Linked DNA regions of Homo sapiens. The protein of the gene in region 1 interacts with the protein of each later gene in a pairwise test. Each region holds a gene or a part of one and is shown on either strand. Other genes may lie near its edges.

Region 1 (12,805 bases):
CACACCATTGCACTCCAGCCTGGGCAACAAGAGTGAAACTCCATCTCAAAAATAAAAAAAAAAAAAAATCAAATTTCAAGAATAATGTATAATAAATTTGTTATTTCCACTTGACTAGATAATGTGATTACTTACATTTTCTATAAACAGAACCAAAAATGATAGTTGAAGGAAAATTAAACCTTTTTAAAAAGAGCCATTTTTCTGCTTTATATGGAAATAATGTAACTAAATTTTATAACTTATCTAAAAATTGGCATAGTTTTTTTATTTTCAGTTACTATTGTGAACTAATTTTCCTTTTTTCTGTTGGTTCCATAGGACAGATCTATTCAGAAATGATCCACAACTTGCTTCGACCCGTTCTGCAAAGCAAGGACTGTAATTTGGTTCGCTATAATGTCATCAATGCATTGCCCAATACAGCTGATTCACTCATTGGGAGAGCTGCACATATAGCTGTTCTTGATTCGGAAATATTTTTAGAGAAATTCTTTCTGGTTGCTGCCCTCAAATATTTCCAATAGTATAAAAGCATTGTTAGCGACTGGACAATTACCTCATTCAACAATGTTTCAAATAATGTATTATATTAAAATGTAGATGCTGATAAGTTCTAAGAAATATTTATACCTTTTTATATGGAAGATAATTTATATCATCCATGTTTAGTGCTTTTTAAACATCAACTTTACTTTCTAGGTAATGTGGCTGTGCAATATTTTTTTAATTTTATCTTTTTACTTTTCTATTACTTTTTCATATATTTTGCTACCTAAGTATTTCAGTGAAACTTTAAGCCCATACCTGTGTCTGATTGTTTATTATTGGCTTTCCACAATTCTTACATCAGACTACATTATATTAGAGACCATTATTGCTAGAATAGCATGGGATTTAAAATTTTCTAATACTGGGGGTATTATTTAGTTAATTATAAATTTTTCTTTTCACATTTTACTGTGTTTTAACTGGAAATAAAATTATGGCTGCTACAATATATTTTTTGAAATCAACTTCTGTAGTTCTAAAATACAACTTTATCATACAATCAAACCAGGTAGTTCATATAAAACAGTGTAATACAAGTTTTCTATAAAGTCATTACTGTTGCTTAAACATATTTCATGCCTATTAAAATATATTTTCTACTGGTGATTTCAACATTATTTCTCATACTGACTTTTATTACTGGAAATGTTCCTGTACATGTTGGCAGCAGATAAAGATTTTTGAATGTTTGAATGCCCTCTGCCTTGATTTGGTTGGAATTTTTGCTAAATTGGTAATGTTGCTTGAACTTTATGACTACATTTTCTTTTAACTTTTTTCATGGACTTCCTTATATGTACATAATAATTAAATGTTGAAATTTATGAAATACTTTTATGAATTTAGATAATTTTTAAATATTGTTAAAATTTATTGAACTAAAAAGTAATGTAAATAAAATAATTCATGTTAAAGATGGAACAAAATAATTAACTTTACATGTTTGGTGATACAGATGCAAATGTTTTTGATATATGGAGATGTTGAGTCTTTTGACTTTACTAAAGGTGCTGAATAGCATTAAATTCACTATTTTCCTTTTCTGTTTTACTTGTGAAAATAAAAATGCACTAAGGTTGGGTAGAAGTTCTGTTTGCACTCACTAATTGTGACAGACAGAGGTTTTTGTAAGTATTTATTGTACAATTGATGCATGTTTATTTTTAGCGTTGTTATTGCCTCTGGTGTTAATAAATGAACAAATGGCTATCTGGAGGAACAGCTACAACCCTTGTAATCCTTTGCTTATTCTCTGAATACTAGAGGTATATATATTTTATTTATAACATAGACCAGCCTAATTATATAACTTGTAGCCTTTGTATTTTTATATCTTTTGTATATATTATTATAGTTAAAATAATTTTGATTGCTATTGATAATTATTTACTTTTTAGAAAGTACTCAAAATTTTTATAAACTAATATCCCAAGTGCATTATAACTAGAAAATGTAAATATATTAATTAGCCACCACATATTTTTGCCAAGCACATTTTTTATATTCCTATATCTTGGCTCTGAGTTTGAAATGTGCATATTCAAAGTTTGGATAATTTTCAGGTTTATCAAAGGACTCAATCATATAAATAGTATTTGAGTGGAAATTGCTCTTATCATAGTTGATTGATTAGTTTTTGGTTATTTTAATACAGTTCTAAAAGCACATCTGTGTTCATGGTTTAAAATCTAACAAATTTAACTTACTTGATTTATCTGGGAAACCACCACACACTATTCACCTCCAAATTCAGATTGTGGGAGATGGGGTACAGTTATGGGGGAGAGAGGAAACAATGATCTGAAATGGTATTATTGACTCTTACTTTAGAGAATGAATCTCATTGAAGTATACCAGTAAGAGTTCTTGGTTGCAAACAACAAAAAAAATTATGATCAACCTAAACAGAAAAAGAATTTATTGGAGGAGGATCAGGTAGCTCACAGAATTGATGGAAAGGCTAGAGAGCCAGGTTTGGAAAACAAATAGAAGCCAAAGGAAAGTAGATGACCAAAAGCATAGCCAAGTTCTGATGACCTCAGAGCTAAATGACTGTATTCTTCTCTAGCCAGGATGACCCTGGAAACTGGATTTCAAGTACTTGTTTTATCACTTCAGATTCAAAGCGTAGTAGAATGTCCAACTGACCAAGTTTAAGTCTTGTGCCAGTGCTTGGGCTGTCAGGCATCAAAGACAGCAGATGTATCTGACCTCGTTAGTTTCCACAGTAGAAAATGGGACCCTTTATTCTACCAAGGTTAACCAAACATATGAAATGGGTTTGATGACAGCACCAAATATAAAAACACATCAGGTGTAATATAGTCCATCTTTTTGTCTTCCCAACATCTGCAAGCATAATTCTCTCCATATTTACACATTTAAAATGCATCTTTCTGACATAGTACTACTATCCCTCATCCAGTTTTAAGTCCAGGACCTCAGTGTGATGTTCTCTGATTCTGTAATAATCTCATCTCAATAGTGTGCAACTCATAGACAAAATTGTGACCTAACCACCACCCCTATACATAATAACAGTATAATAGGAAAGAAGCTGGGCGTGGTGGCTTATGACTGTAATCCCAGCACTTTGGGAGGCTGAGGTGAGAGGATCACTTGAGCTAGGAATTCAAGACCAGCCTGGGCAACATAGCAAGACCCCATCTCTAGAAAATAATTTAAGTGAGCCTGGTGGCATGCACCTGTAGTCCCAGCTACTTGGAAGACTGAGGTGGGAGGATCACTTGAGTCCAGGAGTTCAAGGTTGCAGTGAGTTACTGCACTTCAGCCTGGGCGACAGGGAGACCCCCCAACTCAAATATATATATACATATGAAATAAGAGAAAATTTTATAAACATGCATGAGCCAGTGAGGAAGAAAACAAAATAGAGCAGGGCTTTGCAATGTCCGTGCCAAGAATTACCTAGACTACTTTAAAAATACACATTCTAGGACCTTATTACGGACCACCTGAATCAGAATTTTCAGGATAGTGTAAAAGCAGCAGCATGTTTTATGTCCCAAATTTCTCTAATAACACGTCGCAAATACAGTACTTAGTCCTGTCAGTGGTCGTGAATCTAGATGGTTATGACTTCTCACCACTGCCAACTATTTTCTGTTTTCTTTATGTTCAAGCAGCACCTCTGCTGATCAGATTTATGTATCCAGTGGATGACAGAGGATCTGAGGTGTGGGTGGTCTTGCCTATATATGGTTGTAATAGTCTTATATGTAAATGTTACCATTCAGCATGGTATTTTTTAAAATAAAATATAAAAACATGGTATTGTGAGGAGGGATTCCAGGAGACCCCCCTGACTTCTGGTTATACTGTTCTCCCTACTCTCTTTTCTCCATGGTCATCAGGGCCAATCACTCCAGCTAGCACCATCACCACTTTCTCTAACCTTACCTAGAGGAATGAGGTCAAAATGGCTGGGTGGCAATTCCAGCTGGGCACAAAAATTGCTATACCAACAGAACCTGGACTCAGAGATGGCTAGCAAGAGTAGTGAAGGGTCTGAGATTTTATCCTACTTGCAAGGTTACAGGCTAGGTTGCTGCAGTTTCATGGATGATGACAGGATACTCCTGGACAAAAGACAAAACAGCTTTATTACAGCAAAATAGAAGCCAGAGTGTCCGCATATTTGCATCAGTTCCCGTAGCCCAATTCCCACAGTGTGATGCAGAGGGCCGGATGACGTCTGTGCACATGGGGGGTTGCATTACAGAAGAATCCAGGATCAAGAATCAAGCAGTTTTTGAGCAAACAACAAACAAGCTAGTCTCTCTCCCCCAGGGAGCAGCAGTTAAATGGTAGTAATGCTGTGATTGCCTTGACCTACTTAGGTGCCTATATGACTAACTACAGAAACTGCTTAGCATCAGGAGATGGATACGGCTTGCAGTCTGGCACACTCAGTAATAATATACAGGCATGTTCAGGGGCCTTCGGAGCTTGTCTCTTCTCTACTACAATGGAAAGCAAAATATATTTTATATCAGTAAGTCATATGCAATAGTAAGAAGTCAGACCCTTTTCTACTCTTTGATCTCTGTTATTCTGTCAACAGAAGATATATCACCAAATACCGTTGACTCATTTGGAAAATATGACAAATCCTTTAGGGCAGTATCCCAAAGTGTATTTTCTCACCTCGTTCCAAAACAACCTTCAATAAGGCTGTCCGTCATTCCATAAAATCGGTTGCTTTTGGATGATGGAATATATAAGACTGTGAATCCTGCAGGCATTAGTCCCCTGCTTTACATCTTTCACAAGAAAATGAGTTCTTCGGTAAGAAGCAATGTTGTATATGATATTGTATTAAATATGGAGTAGTGTGTTAAGGTATTCAGTAAGTCCACAGGTGAAGTATATAATAAGCATAAATCAGGGAAAACAATCTAAATGCAGAATAATTGTCTCTTCCTGTAAGAACAAATTGCAACCTCCTTCATAACAGTAGGATTTCATTGTAATCAGACCTGCCACCCAGACCACATAAAAGTGTATCATGGGATCAAGTTGGTCACTGCAGTTGGCGAGTAGTGGTAGTAGCCAATCAGTCATGGCAGAAGAAAGACGGTGTTAAAAGTACATGTATGTCTCCATTCTTGCCACCGTGGCTACCTTGTTACTGAGTCCACACCTGTTGTGGGGGAAGGAGGCTGAGTAATTGATGTCCACAGAATGGGTCACTGTTGCAGCCCTTGTGTAATCCCCTTTTGAGAGTGGCCGGGACCTAATAATAGGATACAGTGGAAGTGGTGGGATGTCGCTACCGAAATGAGATTACAGAAGTTCAGGGCTTCCATTTTGAGTGGTCTTTCTTGCTCCTTAGTTCATTTGTCCTGTGGAAAGCCAGCTGCCATGTTGCAAGATAGCCTTTGGAGAAGCCCACTTAACAAATAACTGAGAAGGTTTCCAGTCCAAAGTCCACAAGGAACCAAATCTTGCCAATAATCATGTGAATGAGCTTGGAAGCAGATCTTCCCTTAGTTGTGCATTTATACGAGACTGGGACTTCAGCCAACAGCTTGGCTGCAACCTCATTTAGGACCCAGAACCACAGTCACTCTGGCTTCTAGGTTACTGATCCACAAAAACTGTGAGAGAATAACTGTTTATTGCTTTAAGCCAATAAATTTTGGGATAATTTGTGAGGCAGCAATAGATAACTAATAATCTTGTTCTGATTAAGAGCCCTTCTGCAATGGAAGCTCTTTTTTTTTTTTTTTTTTTTAACGTTCAATAGGACCCAAATGTTTTCATGCTTTGGGACCACTTTGAGAGGTCCTATTCCAAAGACCCAGTCCAAAACTTTTACATTCCCAGTTCCCAGCCACTTGACAAACCAGTCACTGCCTATGAAATGTCGATTTTTATCTCAAGCCATGTCTCTTTTTAGGCAAAGCATACAAGATAAGCTAAATTCTGGCCAGGCACAGTGGCTCACACCTGTAATCCCAGCACTTTGGGAAGCTGAGAGGGGTGGATCCCTTGAGGCCAGGAGTTTGAAACCAGCCTGGTCAACATGGCGAAACCCTGTCTCTACTAAAAATAGAAAAATCAGCCAGGTGTGGTGACATGTGCCTGTAAAAACATAAAATACATAAATAAGCTAAATTATGCATGCTGGAAATAATTTTTTTTCCCTGTTCTGTTCCTTCAGGGCCTCTGTTAAGTGGGGCTCTAAATATGAAAAGCAGTCAGTTGCCAGCTGGGCCAGTTTATTGAGCAAAGCCATCATCCGACTTTGAATTTTTTCCTCAGTCAGCTAGTCACAAGGAATTCATTATTAAACTGTAGATATAAGCTAAAGGTCAAAAGCATGATATTAGGACTGTGAGCTCCCTACAAATGAAAACTGTTTCCGTTTTGACTTTGGCCCAGTTCTGTGTATCCCACTTTCTCTCTTTTTTCTTTTTCTGTTTTTGAGATGGAGTTTTGCTCTGTCTCCAAGGCTGGCGTGCAGTGGCGTGATCTCTGCTCACTGCAATCTCCGCCTCCCGAGTTCAAGCGATTCTTCTACCTCAGCCTCCCAAGTAGCTGGGATTACAGGAATGTGCCACCTCGCCCGGCTAATTTTTGTATTTTTAGTAGAGTGTTGGCCAGGCTGGTCTCGAACTCCTGACCTCAGGTAATCTACCCGCCTCGGCCTCCCAAAGTGTTCGGATTACAGGAGTGAGCCACCTTGCCCGGCCCACTTTCTCTTCGTAAAAGGATCTCCTTATCTAGGAGAACCAGATAATTCTCAGTTCATGATAAGAAGCTTCGATCGTATAACCACTTGATGTCACATGGTCAGACACTACCAAGGCGCAATAGCTAGCCAGAAACTTTTCTTTAAAAGAAAAGACAAAATTCCAGAATTCTGGGGGCCTTCACTATGATTCTGTAAATATTTCCACGAGTTGCACAAAGCATCCAGGTCTGCCACATCCACTCAACGCTATCAGAGCTGGTGGGATGTAAGGGTTAAGGGGCAGAGCTCATTGCACTGGATCCTGGCCTGGATGGAGAGCCTTTTCTTGCTTTGCACCTCATTCAAAAATGTCGCCTTTCATATCATCTGGTTAGTCGGTCAGAATGGACGAACTAGGAGCTGACTGAACAAAGATTTAAAACACAAAACAGGGAGAATTAGGTAAAAGAAGCATTTTACATGAGTGAGAGAGTAAAAGGTGCTCAATCTTTGTAAACTATAAAAGGGATCTTCCACGGGCCATTTCGGCTCAGACTGACAAGCATGAACGGAACGGAATTATTCCCTCTTCTAACTGCAGCCACGATTTGGCGTTTTAACACCGGGCTCAAGGTAGCCTGGGTCTCTCTTGGCCAAAGAGCCCAGGGATGCCTCTAACTCCTTTTCTAAAGCCGGCCACGGAGGCCCCGCCCTCTGCAGGGAGGCTCCGGATCATGCCCCCTGCTCCTCCCACTACTGCTTTGCGCCTGCGCGGAGGCTCGGGGAGTCGGCGCCATGACCCCATCGAGGCTTCCCTGGTTGCTTAGCTGGGTCTCGGCCACGGCGTGGAGAGCGGCAAGTAAGCACCTGGCCTCGGGGCCACGGTCGCGGGAGGGGTCGTGAAGGCCCAGGCGCAGAGAGAAGCGCCTCCCGCGGAGGAAGCCGCGTGTGTCCTGGCCGTTCGGTGTTGCCAGGGGCTGCCCAGCTTCTCCCGCCCAGCCGCCCACCCGGTGGCCTGGGCAGGTTCCTGCAGCGCCCCGGGTCTCGGGTGGGACTAGAGCGAGAAAATCGCTAAGGCCCTTTCAGCCCCCGGGACGTCCGCTTCCTACCGAGCACGCGGTGGCCCAACAGGACCACAAACGTTCCGGGTTGTTCCTGTGGGAGCTCGCAGGGCACACCGCACTTCGATGCCCCAGAGAAAAATGGAAAAGAAGGCCCTTTGGGAATGGGAGTCATTGATTTACTTATTTATTTACATCATTATTTACAGGAATCCGCGCTCCTGGTCCAGGCTCCAGCAGAAAAGGATTTGTGGCAGTTTACAGTTTATCTTTTAAAAATGGGAAAAGTGCAGAAGTGAGCCAAAGGCAAATAAGTATAACGTAAATTAGATGAAGCCAGGAATTGTCAGTACAGAAAAAGCATTCATGCTTTCAGTAAAACCAACATTTTTAAACCCATTGTTGTTGGAAATTTTTCTCAAGATAATACAGTTAGCAGCCCAGACTATGCAAAACATAATTTTATTTATTTATTTATTTATTTGTTTATTTATTTTGAGATGGAGTCTCGCTCTGTCCCTCAGGCTGGAGTGCAGTGGCGCAATCTCGGCTCACTGCAAGCTCTGCCTCCCAGGTTCACGCCATTCTCCTGCCTCAGCCTCCTGAGTAGCTGGGACTACAGGCGCCCGCCACCGTGCCTGACTAATTTTTTGTATTTTTAGTAGAGACGGGGTTTCACCGTGTTAGCCAGGATGGTCTCGATCTCCTGACCTTGTGATCCGCTCGCCTCGGCCTCCCAAAGTGCTGGGATTACAGGCGTGAGCCACCGCGCCCGGTCCGCAAAACATAATTTTAATATATGACACCTGGAGAAGTTATGTAAGTTGAAAACAGTAATTATTGCCCTCAAATGGTGCCAGATTTCTATGCAATTTGTTTTCCTTTGTGCAATCATTTTACCCAAATACAAACATTTTACTTAATTGTATAAGTTTTAAATAGTCCAGAAATGAATAATACAGAAAGTGAAAGTCCTACATTATCCAAACCTCAAGGTAATAACGTTAAAATTTTGTAGGGTTCATTCAACATCCCCCTTTAACTAGTTTTAAACAATTATGAATTATTCCATATATATATATGTATACACACACACACACGTAGCACACATGTAAGCTATGTAGCAGTCATGTAAGCTATGAAGCACAACCAGCATCTATGAACTTATACTCCAATTTAAGAAATAGTCTCTATTGCCAAGGAGGTCTCTATTTGCTGCTTCCTGATACAACTGTGCAATGGTGTTTTTAATCTTTATAGAAATGTTTTCATATTGTTGATTTTTTTTCAGATAACGCTGTGTTTTGTGATTGAGTCACATTGACGCATGAGGTTGTAGTTATTCATTCAACTGTGTGAACATATGATGCATTTTCCAGTGCCCTTCTCAAAGGACATTTGGGTAATTCCAGAAACACTAGGATTGGGTGCTACACATTCTTGTGTACCTTATTTGTGCATTAGTGGAAGGAGTAGAATTCCTGGAGTATGTTATAGGTCTTTTCATTGTTACAATATAATGCCAAGGTGTAACGGCATTTTCTAATTCTATAGCAATTTTCACTTCTACCAGCAGTGTATTGGAGTTCTGTTGTTCCACAAACTTGCCGAAACTTAATTTTGCCTTAGGTTTTAATTTTTGGCTGCCTACAGGGAAATGAAATGACACCTCATTGTGATTTTGCTTTTCTCTGATTAAAGAAGTAAAACATCTTTTCAAATATTCACTTTTTGTGAAATACCTCTTTCTTTTTTCTTTTTTTTTTTTTTTTTTTTTGAGGCGGAGTTTCGCTCTGTCGCCCGGGCTGGAGTGCAGTGGCGCGATCTCGACTCACTGCAAGCTCCGCCTCCTGGGTTCACGCCATTCTCCTGCCTCAGCCTCCCGTGTAGCTGGGACTACAGGCGCGCGCCACCACGCCCGGCTAATTTTTGTATTTTTAGTAGAGACGGGGTTTCACCGTGTTAGCCAGGATGGTCTCGATCTCCTGACCTCGTGATCCGCCCGTCTCGGCCTCCCAAAGTGCTGGGATTACAGGCGTGAGCCACCGCACCCGGCCTCTTTTTTCTTTCTTTGTTTTTGAGACGGAGTTTCACTCTTGTTGCCCAGGCTGGAGTGCAATGGCGAGATCTCAGCTCACTGCAACATCTGCCTCCTGAGTTCAAACGATTCTCCTGCCTCAGCCTCCCAAGTAGCTGGTATTACAGGCGCCCACCACCACACCCAGATAATTTTTTGTATTTTTGGTAGAGACAGGGTTTTGCCATGAACTCAGGTGATCTATCAGCCTCGGCCTACCGAAGTGTTGGGATTACAGGCGTGAGCTGCCACGCCCGGCCTTTTTTCTTAACAGATTGCTTCTTATTTATATTCTTTACATATATTTGTATGCTAAACCTTTTTTAGTTACGTAAGTGTCAAATACCTCAATTTGTGGTTTGTTTCTGTCACTGCTAGGCAGAATAGAATAACGGGTCTGCATGTGTAATCATGCAGCTTCAATATAAAAGGTATCTTAATAAACAGATGTTTATAATTTTATCTATAAAATTTTGTCTTGATCCTTTTGTTTATTGTGACTGCCTTGTGGTCTTGTCTAAGAAACCCTTCTGTACCCTAAAGTCATGGACATAATCTCTTATATTTTCTTCTCAAAGGTTTATAGTTTTGCTTTTCACATTTAAGCCTTTATTCTACCAGGAATTGATGGTTTGTATATGGTGTGAGGCAGGAAACCAGTTTTCATTTTTTTTCATATCAAACACTTGTCCCAGGTTCATGTATTTATAGGACCTTTCCCCTACTGATATAATGCGAGCCATCATAAATCAAGTTTACTTATACATATAGGCATACGTTTATTTCTTGGCTCTTTTCTCAGTCCCATTGACCTATTTGTCTATTCCTGTGCTGATACTACCTGTCTTGATAATTATAGCCATAACTTTGTTATAAATCTTACTATTTTCTGACTGTTGTTTATGTACAGAAACATGATGCTTAATGATTTTGTATCTAAATTACCTTATTAATTTAAATAATTTACTTTGCAGATTTTGGGGACTTTGCTGCATAGCCATTCATATCATCTGCAAATGGTGACAGTCTAGTTTCTCCCTGTCTAATCCTTTTTTTTGAGAAAGGGTCTTGCTCTGTCACCCAGGCTGGAGTGCAGTGGCGCAATCTCTGCTCACTGCAACCTCCACCTCCCGAAATCAAGTGATTCTCCTGCCTCAGCCTCCCGAGTAGCTGGGATTACTGGTGTGCACCACCATGCCCGGCTAATTTTTATATTTTTTTTAGAGATGGGGTTTTGCCATGTTAGCCAAGTGATCCTTGAGAGCCTCGGCCTCTCAAAGTCCTGGGATTACAGGCGAGAGCCACCGTGCCCCCCACCACCCTCCCTGTCTAATCCTTATATCTTTTTTCTTTCTTTGCTCAGATTTCCAGCACCATGTTGACTAGAAGTGTTGACAGCAAGCATACTTATCTTGTTTATGATTATAAAGGGAATGCATTTCTTTTTATCATTAAGGTGTGATATTGCAGTCATTTAGATAAAATTGCTACATTTTTTTTTAAGTCACCATCTCCTAATAACTTCTAAGGCATGTTTTATAAACGAATCCTCAGGGAAGAGTTCTAGCTATCTCCCAAATAATTCTGTTCTTTTAAACCAAAAAATCTCCGTCTTATGTTTTTGTTAAAACTCTTTATTTTGGATTTACATTTACTTACAGGATTTAATGATCCATAACTGTGGGTCTTCAGAGTCCAAGCCTTTGTGAAATAAAATTTCATGGAACATGAAAAAAAAAATATGGTATTAGCTACAGTTATACCCTTTTTGGGTTAAGGAAGTCTGTTTCTATGTAGAGTTTTGGGATTTTGTTTTGTTTTTGTTTATGTATTTGTATTTGTTTTTTAATGATGAATAAATCTTGAAGTTTACTTAATTGATTTTTCTTTGTCTTACTGAGGTGTTCTTCGTCTTACTGAGGTGTTTATCATTTTCTGCTTTAATCTGTTGAGGTGGTAAATTACAGATTTTTCTGATAGTGAATCACTTGCATTCCTAGAAAATATTCCAAAGGATCATAGTGATTATATTTTTAAATATAATGTTGTATTTGTTGTGCTTATATTTTGTTTAGAAATTGGCCTGTAATTTTCTTCTATTATACACTGAAACCCCTGCCTCCCGGGTTCAAGTTATTCTTCTGCCTCAGCCTCCGGAGTAGCTGGGATTACAGGCACACGCCACCACTCCCAGCTAATTTTTGTATTTTTAGTAGAGACAGGGTTTCACCATATTGGCCAGGCTGATCTCAAACTTCTGACCTCGTGATATGCCTGCCTTGGCCTCCCAAAGTGCTGGCATTACAGGTGTGAGCCACCGCGCCCAGCCTTCCCTGGTTTTAATATTAAGGTTATTCTAGCCTCATATAATGTACTGGGGATTCTACTCACTCTTTTCCCTTCTTTGTTAGATTTTGTTTAAGATTGGAATTATTTGTTCCTTGAGGGTTTGTTACAACTCACCTGCAAAACTGTCTAGACCTGTTCTTCTCTTCGAGGGAAGACTTTAAATTACTTGTTTAACTTCTATAATGGTTATTATTATATTTATCAGGTTTCCTCTTAAGTCAGTTTTGGTAAGTTAACTTTTTCTGGAAAGGTTTCCATTTTGTATTGTTTCAATATATAGGCATAAAGTTTCTGGTATTTTTTTAAAATTTTCTGCTCTCCATATAATATGTACTCTCTTTTTCTCATATTATCTATTTTGCTTTCTCTTGTTTTTTTATAGTAGCCTTACCAAAGCTTTTACAACACTTTCAGTCTTTTTTTGTCTTTTTTTTTTTTTTTTTTTTTTTTTTTTGAGACAAAGTCTTGCTCTGTCGCCCAGGCTGGAGCGCAGTGGTGCGATCTTGGCTCACTGCAACCTCCACCTCCCGGGTTCTAGTGATTCTCCTGCCTCAGCCTCATAGCTGG
Region 2 (11,769 bases), on another chromosome or scaffold:
ACATTCAAAGCAGTGTGTAGAGGGAAATTTATAGCACTAAATGCCCACAAGAGGAAGCAGGAAAGATCTAAAATTGACACCCTAACATCACCATTAAAAGAACTAGAGAAGCAAGAGCAAACACATTCAAAAGCTAGCAGGAGGCAAGAAATAACTAAGATCAGAGCAGAACTGAAGGAAATAGAGACACAAAAAACCCTTCAAAAAATTAATGAATCCAGGAGCTGGTTTTTTGAAAAGATCAACAAAATTGATAGAATGCTAGCAAGACTAATAAAGAAGAAAAGAGAGAAGAATCAAATAGACGCAATAAAAAATTATAAAGGGGATGTCACCACCAATCCCACAGAAATACAAACTACCATCAGAGAATACTATAAACACCTCTACACAAATAAACTAGAAAATCTACAATAAATGGATAAATTCCTCGACACATACATCATCCCAAGACTAAACGAGGAAGAAGTTGAATCTCTGAAAAGACCAATAACAGGCTCTGAAATTGAGGCAATAATCAATAGCTTACCAATCAAAAAAAGTCCAGGACCAGATGGATTCACCGCCGAATTCTACCAGAGGTGCAAAGAGGAGCTGGTACCATTCCTTCTGAAACTATTCCAGTCAACAGAAAAAGAGGGAATCCTCCCTAACTCATTTTATGAGGCCAGCATCATCCTGATACCAAAGCCTGGCAGAGACACAACCAAAAAAGAGAATTTTAGACCAATATCCTTGATGAACATCGATGCAAAAATCCTTAATAAAATACTGGCAAACTGAATCCAGCAGCACATCAAAAAGCTTATCCACCATGATCAAGTGGGCTTCATCCCTGGGATGCAAGGCTGGTTCAATATACGCATATCAATAAATGTAATCCAGCATATAAATAGAACCAAAGACCAAAACCACATGATTATCTCAATAGATGCAGAAAAGGCCTTTGACAAAATTCAACAACACTTCATGCTAAAAACTCTCAATAAGTTAGGTATTGATGGGATATATCTCAAAATAATAAGAGCTATCTATGAAAAACCCACAGCCAATATCATACTGAATGGGCAAAAACTGGAAGCATTCCCTTTGAAAACGGGCACAAGACAGGGATGCCCTCTCTCACCACTCCTATTCAACATAGTGTTGGAAGTTCTGGCCAGGGCAATCAGGCAGGAGAAGGAAATAAAGGGTATTCAGTTAGGAAAAGAGGAAGTCAAATTGTCCCTGTTTGCAGACGACATGACTGTATATCTAGAAAACCCCATCATCTCAGCCCAAGATCTCCTCAAGCTGATAAGCAACTTCAGCAAAGTCTCAGGATACAAAATCAATGTACAAAAATCACAAGCATTCTTATACACCAATAACAGACAAACAGAGAAACAAATCATGAGTGAACTCCCATTCACAATTGCTTCAAAGAGAATAAAATACCTACAAATCCAACTTACAAGGGATATGAAGGACCTCTTCAAGGAGAACTACAAACCACTGCTCAATGAAATAAAAGAGGATACAAACAACTGGAAGAACATTCCATGATCATGGGTAGGAAGAATCAATATCATGAAAATGGCCATACTGCCCAAGGTAATTTATAGATTCAATGCCATCCCCATCAAGCTACCAATGACTTTCTTCACAGAATTGGAAAAAACTACTTTAAAGTTCATATGGAACCAAAAAAGAGCCCGCATTGCCAAGTCAATCCTAAGCCAAAAGGACAAAGCTGGAGGCATCACGCTATCTGACTTCAAACTATACTACAAGGCTACAGTAACCAAAACAGCATGGTACTGGTACCAAAACAGAGATATAGATCAATGGAACAGAACAGAGCCCTCAGAAATAACGCCGCATATCTACAACTATCTGATCTTTGACAAACCTGAGAAAAACAAGCAATGGGGAAAGGATTCCCTATTTAATAAACGGTGCTGGGAAAACTGGCTAGCCATATGTAGAAAGCTGAAACTGGATCCCTTCCTTACACCTTACAGAAAAATTAATTCAAGATGGATTAAAGACATAAATGTTAGACCTAAAACCATAAAAACCCTAGAAGAAAACCTAGGCAATACCATTCAGGACATAGGCATGGGCAAGGACTTCATGTCTAAAACACCAAAAGCAATGGCAACAAAAGCCAAAATTGACAAATGGGATCTAATTAAATTCAAGAGCTTCTGCACAGCAAAAGAAACCACCATCAGAGTGAACAGGCAACCTACAGAATGGGAGACAATTTTTGCAACCTACTCATCTGACAAAGGGCTAATATCCAGAATCTACAATGAACTCAAACAAATTTACAAGGAAAAAACAAACAACCCCATCAAAAAGTGGGTGAAGGATATGAACAGACACTTCCCAAAAGAAGACATTTATGCAGCCAAAAAACACATGAAAAAATGCTCATCATCACTGGCCATCAGAGAAATGCAAATCAAAACCACAAGGAGATACCATCTCACACCAGTTAGAATGGCAATCATTAAAAAGTCAGGAAACAACAGGTGCTGGAGAGGATGTGGAGAAATAAGAACACTTTTACACTGTTGGTGGGACTGTAAACTAGTTCAACCATTGTGGAAGTCAGTGTGGCGATTCCTCAGGGATCTACAACTAGAAATACCATTTGACCCAGCCATCCCATTACTGGGTATATACCCAAAGGATTATAAATCATGCTGCTATAAAGACACATGCACACGTATGTTTATTGCGGCACTATTCACAATAATAAAGACTTGGAACCAACCTAAATGTCCAACGATAGACTGGATTAAGAAAATGTGGCACATATACACCGTGGAATACTATGCAGCCAGAAAAAATGATGAGTTCATATCCTTTGCAGGGAAATGGATGAAGCTGGAAACCATCATTCTCAGCAAACTATCTCAAGGACAAAAAACCAAACACTGCATGTTCTCACTCATAGATGGGAATTGAACAATGAGAACTCATGGACACAGGAAGGGGAACATCACACACCAGGGACTGTTGTGGGGTGGGGGGACGGGGGAGGGATAGCATTAGAAGATATACCTAATGCTAAATGACGAGTTAATGGGTGCAGTACACCAACATGGCACATGTATACATATGTAACAAACCTGCATGTTGTACACATGCACCCTAAAACTTAAAGTATAATAATAAAAAAAAGGGATATTGTGAAGAGTAAATTTGGCAGTACCTGGGACTTTTACTATATATTAAAAATATTGTAGACAACATCATGTTTTGAGAAGTGTTTTTGCTGAAATTGGTAACTAGAGAAAGCAAAAGGCATTAAATAACCCACTTTCCGAACTTCCAGTAGGGAGGCAGCCTCTTTCTCACCCAGTTTGCACTATAACTCCCTACCTCGCCATAGGAAAGTCAATTTGAAGTGAGGGATCTGTTAGGGAATGCAGAGAAGACAAACATTCCAGTGGTTCCTTGCCCCGAAGATGACAGAGGAAAACCTCATGAGGACTGAAAAGTTTGAGTGTGTATGTAGGACCAATTCTTCTAGCCCAGTTAAATATCACATGAGTCACCAGGCCTGCTAACTTGCCTTGGAACTACCACAGAGAAGGAAAAGCTTTGGAGGGTGATGGTGCAGTGGTATGGCCCGACAGAGAAGGGGACAAGCATGCCACCTTTAGTTCTAGGTTCCTGAGATGTGCAGAAGGTAGAACCCAGCCACCTGAGAACTGGGGTCCTGGAGGGTAGGTGAGATTGAAGGACAAAGACTGACTGCAAACCAATGAATGAGGCAGAGCACCCTCTGAGGCTTAGGAACTCGTGGGGTTCAGTAGGGCTCTCCTCGGCCAGCCCTGTGCACTGCCCTTGTCTACACTGCTGCTGGTGGTGGTGAACTAGACAGTGGGGATGGCCAACAGAAAGGGATAGAGCCTCTCTCTGGCCACTCACACAGGACGACATCATTTCCCTCTCAAATGAACATACACAGGGAGTTGGGGGGTTATTAAAGACCTCAACTTCTCCCCAAAACTACTGGAGTCTGTAGTTTGAATTGTGGTGATAGGAAGAAAATATCTAAGTGTTTCTAACAGAAGTGAGATATTAGTAATGAGAATTCACTGATGAGCTTGGAATCAGGTTAAGATGTGGGTAAGGGAGCCACCTAGCCAGAGAGAAAGGAAGATTAGCAGAAGAGAGTTAGAAATAAATTAACTGGAAAAAAATAAGCCTGTCATACATTAACGACTTGACGTTCCTCAACTATTCAGTTGCAGTTATTATCTGAAAACTAATCTTCCTTTTCCTAGCTAGTCTCTTGTCTCTTGTTATTGGGTTTGTGTTCACATTATCTATTTTGAAGATTTTCAAATCTTTTTGTTTTCTCCCCATATAATCATGGTAATGGAACATAAAATGCCTAAGACATGAATGAAAATTCACATGTCCTTGTTTGCTTCCTTGCTACTTTATCACAAATATTTCCAGGACAGCACATGTTTTTAATAACTTGTACGTTCTTATAATTATAATATAGATCCTTTGTAAACATATGAACTGCAAAAATAGAAGACTGTAAAAGTCACCCATATTTTACCATTCAGATATATTCTGGTTAATGTTTGCTGTATACTATTTCTAACTTTTTAAGTCATAGGTAAACTTTCTTAAAAATTAAAATGTGTCAGATTACACAAACTATTTTGTAAACCGCTTTTTCATTTTCAGCCTCTAGAAGAGTGCCTGGCACATCCTAAGTTTTCAATAAATATTTGTCAAATAAATGACTGAACTTATTTCCATACCATTAAATGTTTATCTGTGGTGTCATTTTTAACCATTGCACAGAATTCTATTGTGTGAAATATGATAATTTATCTAACAAGGCCCTGAAGAGCTGCAGAGGAATAAGGCCTTGTGATGGACACAGAGGTGCTCCATGCAGTCCCCCTTGAAGTGGGAGGTTGCCCTGCTGCTGGGAGTACTTGCAACCTCCAGCCTCCAGTTATCAGCCCCTTTCAGGACTTGCCTCAGCTACAGAAAGCTGCCTTCCCAGGGTAATCCACATTGAAGGGCAGATCATAGAGGAGCCCAGTGTCAGAGCTACTCTGACAGGCCATCTTCCTCCAGAGTTTCCTGAGGAGGGCTGCTTAAGACTGTCCCATCTATATTGCAGCTCAACTTCTTCCTCTGCCCAGTCCTGTTTCTCCCCTCTCCCTGCCATGGGTGTTAATCTCAGGGCACTGTCTAATAAATATATTGCACACTAAATTTTGTCTCAAAGTCTGCTCCTGAACAACCTAACCTGCAACAGAGATGATGCTGACCTTTGAGGAACTCCCAAGTCTATTGGTAAAAGCACTCAGTAAATTCTAACATTACTGCAGTTACCGATTCCTAACTCAGGTTAAACAAGCGATGGCGCATGTATACCATGATAGGTTATGCAGCCATTAAAATAATGTTCTGGGTGCCATGTATAACACATGATGGCTCCAGAAGTCAGGGAAGAAGGAAAAAAGAAGGGAAGGGAAGAGAAGAGAAAGGGAGGGAAGAAGAGGGGAGGGAAGAATTGGACATCAGATAATCACTTGAGCCCTCTCTCTCCGTGAATTTTTCCCAATCTGTTTCTTTCCACATCTCTTGCTCCTTATCAGTCTTTGGGCCACCTACAGTATGAGCATTACTTGGGCAATTACTGTCTCTCTGAATTTGGCATATGCAAATTATAGAAACTAAAACTGGACATGGCCCTACACAGGTAAGCACATATCAGCATCGCTGTGAGCGGTCAGGACTAACAAGCCTTCAACACACAAAAGCAGGAGTAAGGATCAAATTACACAAATCAAATCAAATCAAATCAAAATAAAATCCCTGAGTTTGTATTCCAGTAAAGCCCAAACCTAGGAGGGATCCAGGAAAGCGATGAGTGTGGCTGTCAAGGTGCTTCCATCTGTCAGAGTCACACATTCCAAAGCAGCAGAAATCAACTGACAGCCTCCGGTTACTCCCCCGCCTCAGCGAGGCAGGGCAGGCAGCGGAAAGCTCAGCCCATGTGAGGTGCCTCCTGCCAATCACAGACTACCCTTCCCTGGTCCTGGAGGTTCAAAGAATTGCAGGAGGGTAGAAAAGCACCTGGGTCGGGTGCAGACTGCGGAGCGGGCCCTACCGTGTGCGCAGAAAGAGGAGGCGCTGTGAGTAGACCGCTTTCCCTCTGCAGGGAATCTCCCGGGCTCAAGGGCTGGGTTGCTCTCCTGGGAGGGAAGCTAGCAGACTGGGAGGGAAAGGGGAAGAAGTTAGATTCTTGATTCATAAAGTCTGTCATTTTTTTCTTTGTAATTTAGGGTATTGTGACTGTCCTGTTCTCTTTTACTTTGAACCGTTGGAATTGCTTTCTTAATACCCTTGATATAAGTCTTGTTCTCATTAAACTTCTGGAGATATTACGCAGCCATCCTGCTTTCAACCTCAGATATCCCCACAGAAAGAACAAGAAAATCCAAGCACCCCGAGAAACCCTATATCTCCTGATTAAATCGCACATAGACAGTCACCTTTGTAGACCCCCAATTTCCTTGTGGAGTCAGAAAAGCAATAGAAAGTTTAACGAAATAGCTCGTGTTATTTCTTAATAATCTGTTCAGGCTAGCAGAGAGAAAGTTTCTTGGTCTTCTTGTCAGAAATCATTTGGTCCTGCCAACCTGTAATGAAATGTGTGAAGCAATTTACTCCCAGTTATTCTCTGCAAACACTTCTGCTTAATAAATGTGTCAGTTGAAGTAAGTCAACAAAGTAGCTTTATCTACGCAATGTTATTTTTACATAATTTGTTTTTACTCCTTACCAATTCTTTGCTCCACCATGATCTGCAGGACATAAAGATATTTTTCATTCTGATCACATTTTCACACAAAATACAAATTTAAGTTTCAAATAATGCTAGTATTATTTTATGTTTGCATTTGTTTATAAACCTAAAACTCCACTTCTAACTAGTTTTAAAGATTTTTAAGCCATTTAAGAATTCGTAGCCAGTCACAGTGGCACATGCCTGCAGTTCCAGCTATTCGGGAAGCTGAGGCCACGTGATCAGGAGTTCTAGTCCAGGCTGGGCAACATAGTGAGATCCTGTCTCTAAAAAAAATAAAAATAAATTTTTAAAGAAGTTTTGTTAACTTGAATGTCTTCTTTTAATGAAAGACAACGTTTCTTGAACATTTCTTGCCTGAGTTGCTAAGCACAACAGGAAAGAACTCATTAGGTTTTATAGATATACATACTTTGAGTATAAACAAAATTTAGGTTACATAGTTTTCAGACCCTATGAAGAAGTGGATTTTCTTTTTATTAACCTTCTCAGTGAGGAGAAAAATTTCTTACTTTGCTTTCTGCTCCAACAGATTGTTTTGCTTTCTGCTATAAAATAGTCTTTAAAATCAACTCACCTATTTTTTTTTTTTTTAACTGCTGGGAAGAATCATAGACTTTTACATCCAAAGGGGACCTTAGACATCATTTAATCAAGGGGAAAAAAAAGAAACTCAGAACTTTTTTTTTCTTTTATTTTCTTTTTTTTTTTTTTTTTTTTTTTTTTTTTTTTTTTGAGACGGAGTCACTCTGAGGCCCAGGCTGGAGTGCAGTGGCGTGATCTCTGCTCACTGCAAGCTCTGCCTCCCGGGTAGATGCCATTCTCCTGCCTCAGCCTCCCGAGTAGCTGGGACTACAGGTGTCTGCCACCACGCCCGGCCAATTTTTTGTATTTTTAGTAGAGACGGGGTTTCACCGTGTTAGCCAAGATGGTCTCAATCTCCTGACCTCGTGATCCATCCACCTCAGCCTCCCAAAGTGCTGAGATTACAGGCTTGAGCCACCGCACCCGGCCAAAACTCAGAACTTCTTTTTGACTTCTCCTGCTTACAATCTTAACCAGAGTAAACACCAGCCAGCCTTTAAATATGCTCTGGAATTTGTGCCTGATAGCCATGCAGGCTGCCCACAAACTTGATGGGCCACCATTCACCAACTGGGACAGAGACCACATTGGTGAGGGGGCACCATCATCACACACCGCCCTACCCGCCTGCCCACCCCCTCCCCCCCGCCCCAAGGACTCTCCATAGTACTCCTGCCCTGGAGCTGGGCATCTCTCTGGCAATGCCCACACCTGAGGCCCTCGTGCAACTGAGTGCTCCTGAGCCATTGCTTACAGCTAGTCCCTGATTTCCAATGGGTGGATGACTCCCATCATACTGGGAGCACCAGGAATCAAGAGCAGTGCTGTCCAGTAAAACTTTCTGTGATGAGGGAAATGTTCTAGATAATAGACACTAACCACATGTATCTAGGGAGTGCTTGAGATGTGGTTGGAGCAACTGAGGAACTGATTTTTACTTTTATTTAATTGAATTCTTTTGACTTTAAATAACTGCATGCAACTACTAACTACTGTATTAGTCAACACAGGTTTAGAGCTTTAAAGCAAGAAAAACTTATGGGCACTGTGAGCCATGGGTGACAGCCCTGGGAGAAACCTCCTCTTTTTGTTATTTCCAGGGACTTATCCTACCTTAAGTTGAAGCAGACCAGCAATTGTTGTGACCTACAATCTCCACACCCATCTTTACTCTGAGCCAAGGAAGTGTCTGTTCTTGTGCTGAGTTTCAGGGTGAGGGCTAAGGCAATCGCATATTGTGTTTCTTTGTTTCTTCCTCTCCTATTTTTCCTTTTCTTTTTTTCTCCTTTGTTAATTCAAATTTCTCTAGCATGAACTAAAGTTTGAGGTGTGGTTTGTGTGTTCTCTGGTACAACAAACTTGGGTGAGGAAAAGAGGTAATGAACTTGAAAAAATGATCTCATGCTTACTGGGCGAGTCTCACTTCTTTTTCTTCTGCTTTGCAAATTGGTTTGTTTAGTGAGCAATTGTTTTTAGACCTTTCAATGTGTCTGGAAACATCAACACTACGGGTATGATTAATTTTTATAGGAAAACAAACTGAGTGAAAGCACAATAAAGAAAAAACAAGAAATATAATTCTAGCTTTAAAAAAATCTGCACTCTTTAAAGCAAAGGAACTCCCAGGGTATTGAGCAATTTGAGTAAATCATCATCATACCAGGCCACAGGGCAGTTTTCCCACAGGGCGGGGTGCACAGGGGCTATTCCTTTACATGGAAAATATTTCGAGGTGAGTTGCGTACTTTCAGTCTGGGGCGTTCCATCTCTAACGCGGGCAGTTGCTGCTCTGCCCTCTGCCTTCCACCGCTTTCCACTTGTTAAATGTAACTCATCCCATTGGTTTCCTTCCCACCCCTGCCAGATAAGTAATCCAATATAGTCAGGGAGGCATTGTTTTAGAATAACGTGGGGAGGGTTCAGAAGACCACATATCTAAAACAGTTTCTACATACTGTGGGCTAAAAGAGAAGGCAGGAAAGAGGACACATCATATCATTAGAAGTCAGTATAGCCAGAGAGACAGACCCAAACCCCCAAATCATAAGTTACGAGGTTTGTCTTTTTAGGTTCTACCCTCTCCTTGGGTCTCTTTCCTTCTCATGGTGTCTTCCCTCGCCCTTTGAAAATTAAATAAGAGAAGGGAGCTGATAAATGAGGCATTGACATGGATGGCTCATGAAACTCAATGTGCCTCTTTTATATGAGCTTGCATTTTAATCAGGAATGAAGGAGTGAGTCTCAAATTGTGGCATTCAGAAGTTAGGGTAAACGGTGAGGAAGCCTTTGAATGAAGGAAAAGGATAGAAGGCTTTCTCCCTGCCAGCTTTGTTTATGTGGCTCCCTTTCTGGCTTATCTTGTAGTGAGTCTCATGGGTAGGCTCACAGGTGGGAGGTCAAGAGTTTCTCTTAATTTAAAAAGACGTAAAGGGAAGTGGATCTCCCTACCTTAAAAAGAATAATCATTAGTGACAAACCCCATAGAAGGCTGGGTTAAGAGTTAGGAAACCTGGACTTGAATCTTAACTCTTTTAATAACACATCATGATCGTGAACAAGTCACTTTCTCTCTGTGAGCCTTAAATTTCTCACCTGTACAAAGCCTCCAAGTTTGCAGCCAGAACTGATGTATCATGCCGTGAACAGGCACCTGGCCAATAACTGTCCTAGGATGAATGACACTTTAATGTCTCTCAAATTACATATCTTCTAAGACAAACAAAAACTACCAAAAGTGTAGTCATTGACTTCTAAGTGTGACACCCGTCAATTAATTTAAAAGTTTATAATTTTGCTTTTTAATGCAATTATTTGTTAAATTGGCTTTTTTGATGCACAGCAATCCAATTTTTGTGGCTTCAGAATATCTTATTAAACAAACTTGGGTGAAGAAAAGACGTAACAACGTACCAGACTATATTGCTGTGGCAGAGGCTAGTATGGAAGAAAAGCCATAAACACATATCCACAATGGTTTCAGCTTCCCTGGAGAGCTATTTGCTATAGGCAGAGAGAGGGATATAGGGAAGGAAGGATAATTCTGGGTAAGAGAAGTTGAGGAGAGAAGAGGTTTTTCAGCTGGGCTTCGGAAGGTGGTAAAGAGTTCGATAGGCAGAAATGGGAGAAGGGATTCCAAAGACAGGGACACCCTAAGCACAGCATGGTGGCATGACCAGGACACCAAAGGGTTGGGGGGGTGGGGCACGCAGTGAAAAATGGCAGGCAGGCCATTTAGAACCTGGATGGGTGCTGCCTTGAATACACACTGAGGAGTTTGTACTTTATCTCTTAGGTGGTCCAACCACTCCTCCACTGGCTGAATGGAAAATATAATAGTTGGGTCTGGCCAAATACTATAGACTGGTCTTTCAGAAGGGAACAGGAGCAAATCTGGATTCAAAGAAACTGGTCAGCAACAGAGAGTGGGGGGACAAGTGATGAACCTGGCAATAGGAAGTAAGTAGGAGCTGGTGGCTGGGCTTGTAAGTGCAGAGGGAATGACCGAGGGCTCTCCTTTGAATTTAGGCTACAGGGAACCTTTGAAGGGTTCTAAGCAGGGGGGAGATATAAATTCAGAGCTGTGTTTTAGGACAGTGGATCTCAAGATTGGCTAAGTGGCTGGCACTTGGAAGCCATGTTTATCTTTGTAGAATACCAGAAAATTTTGGTCTACTAAATTTAAAATAAGTAAGTAGATCATTTTGGCCTAAATTCATACCAAAAACTAGATTTTAGCATAGACAGGTGGTAGTAGCATCCACAATTTAAGAAAAATGTGTAAGAGGAAAATGTTTAAAATCACAAATTTTTATAGTAATTTTTCCTCAAATTAGGAAATGACTGGAATCATTCAATATTGGCATCAAAACATGTTGTCCCAGTAAATGGAACATCTGTGTTTTGGAGGATCATTTGAGAACCTCTGCTTGAGAAAGTTCACCATGGAAGCACTGTATGGAATGGAAACAGAAAATGTTTAATTCATCTGATCCAGAAGTTAGGGGCTGGCAGTGGGAATTGGTAAAATGGTATCAGGAGACATCAGAAAATGATCATATGTGCTTCTATCAAAAATATACATCAATCCCAATTGGGATGGTGTGTTACTCAAGGTTCTTTCAGAGATAGAACCAAAAGGAGATACATAAAGAGAGAGAGAGGCAACGTATGGTGGCTCACGCCTATAATCTCCACACTTTGGAAGGCCAAGTCTTGAGGACAGGAGTTCAAGACCAGCCTGGGCAACATGATGAAACCCCTTCTCTACAAAAAATTTAAAAATTAGCCAGACATTGTGCATGCACCTGTGGTCCTAGCTACTTGGGAGGCTGAAGCAG

The links.
Region 2: the proteins of SDHAF4 (region 1) and UPK1B interact in binary tests that used the Homo sapiens proteins (3 or more experiments, as listed by UniProt).

What each region holds. Positions count from the first base shown.
Region 1 is NC_000006.12:70,559,395-70,572,199, forward strand, and holds the start of SDHAF4 (succinate dehydrogenase assembly factor 4, mitochondrial precursor), read left to right. Parts: upstream 1-7,535; 5' UTR 7,536-7,546; coding exon 7,547-7,610; intron 7,611-12,805. Other genes in the region: protein FAM135A, read left to right, coding at 322-527. UniProt on the Homo sapiens protein: Plays an essential role in the assembly of succinate dehydrogenase (SDH), an enzyme complex (also referred to as respiratory complex II) that is a component of both the tricarboxylic acid (TCA) cycle and the mitochondrial electron transport chain, and which couples the oxidation of succinate to fumarate with the reduction of ubiquinone (coenzyme Q) to ubiquinol.
Region 2 is NC_000003.12:119,167,466-119,179,234, forward strand, and holds the start of UPK1B (uroplakin-1b), read left to right. Parts: upstream 1-6,132; 5' UTR 6,133-6,173; intron 6,174-11,769. UniProt on the Homo sapiens protein: Component of the asymmetric unit membrane (AUM); a highly specialized biomembrane elaborated by terminally differentiated urothelial cells.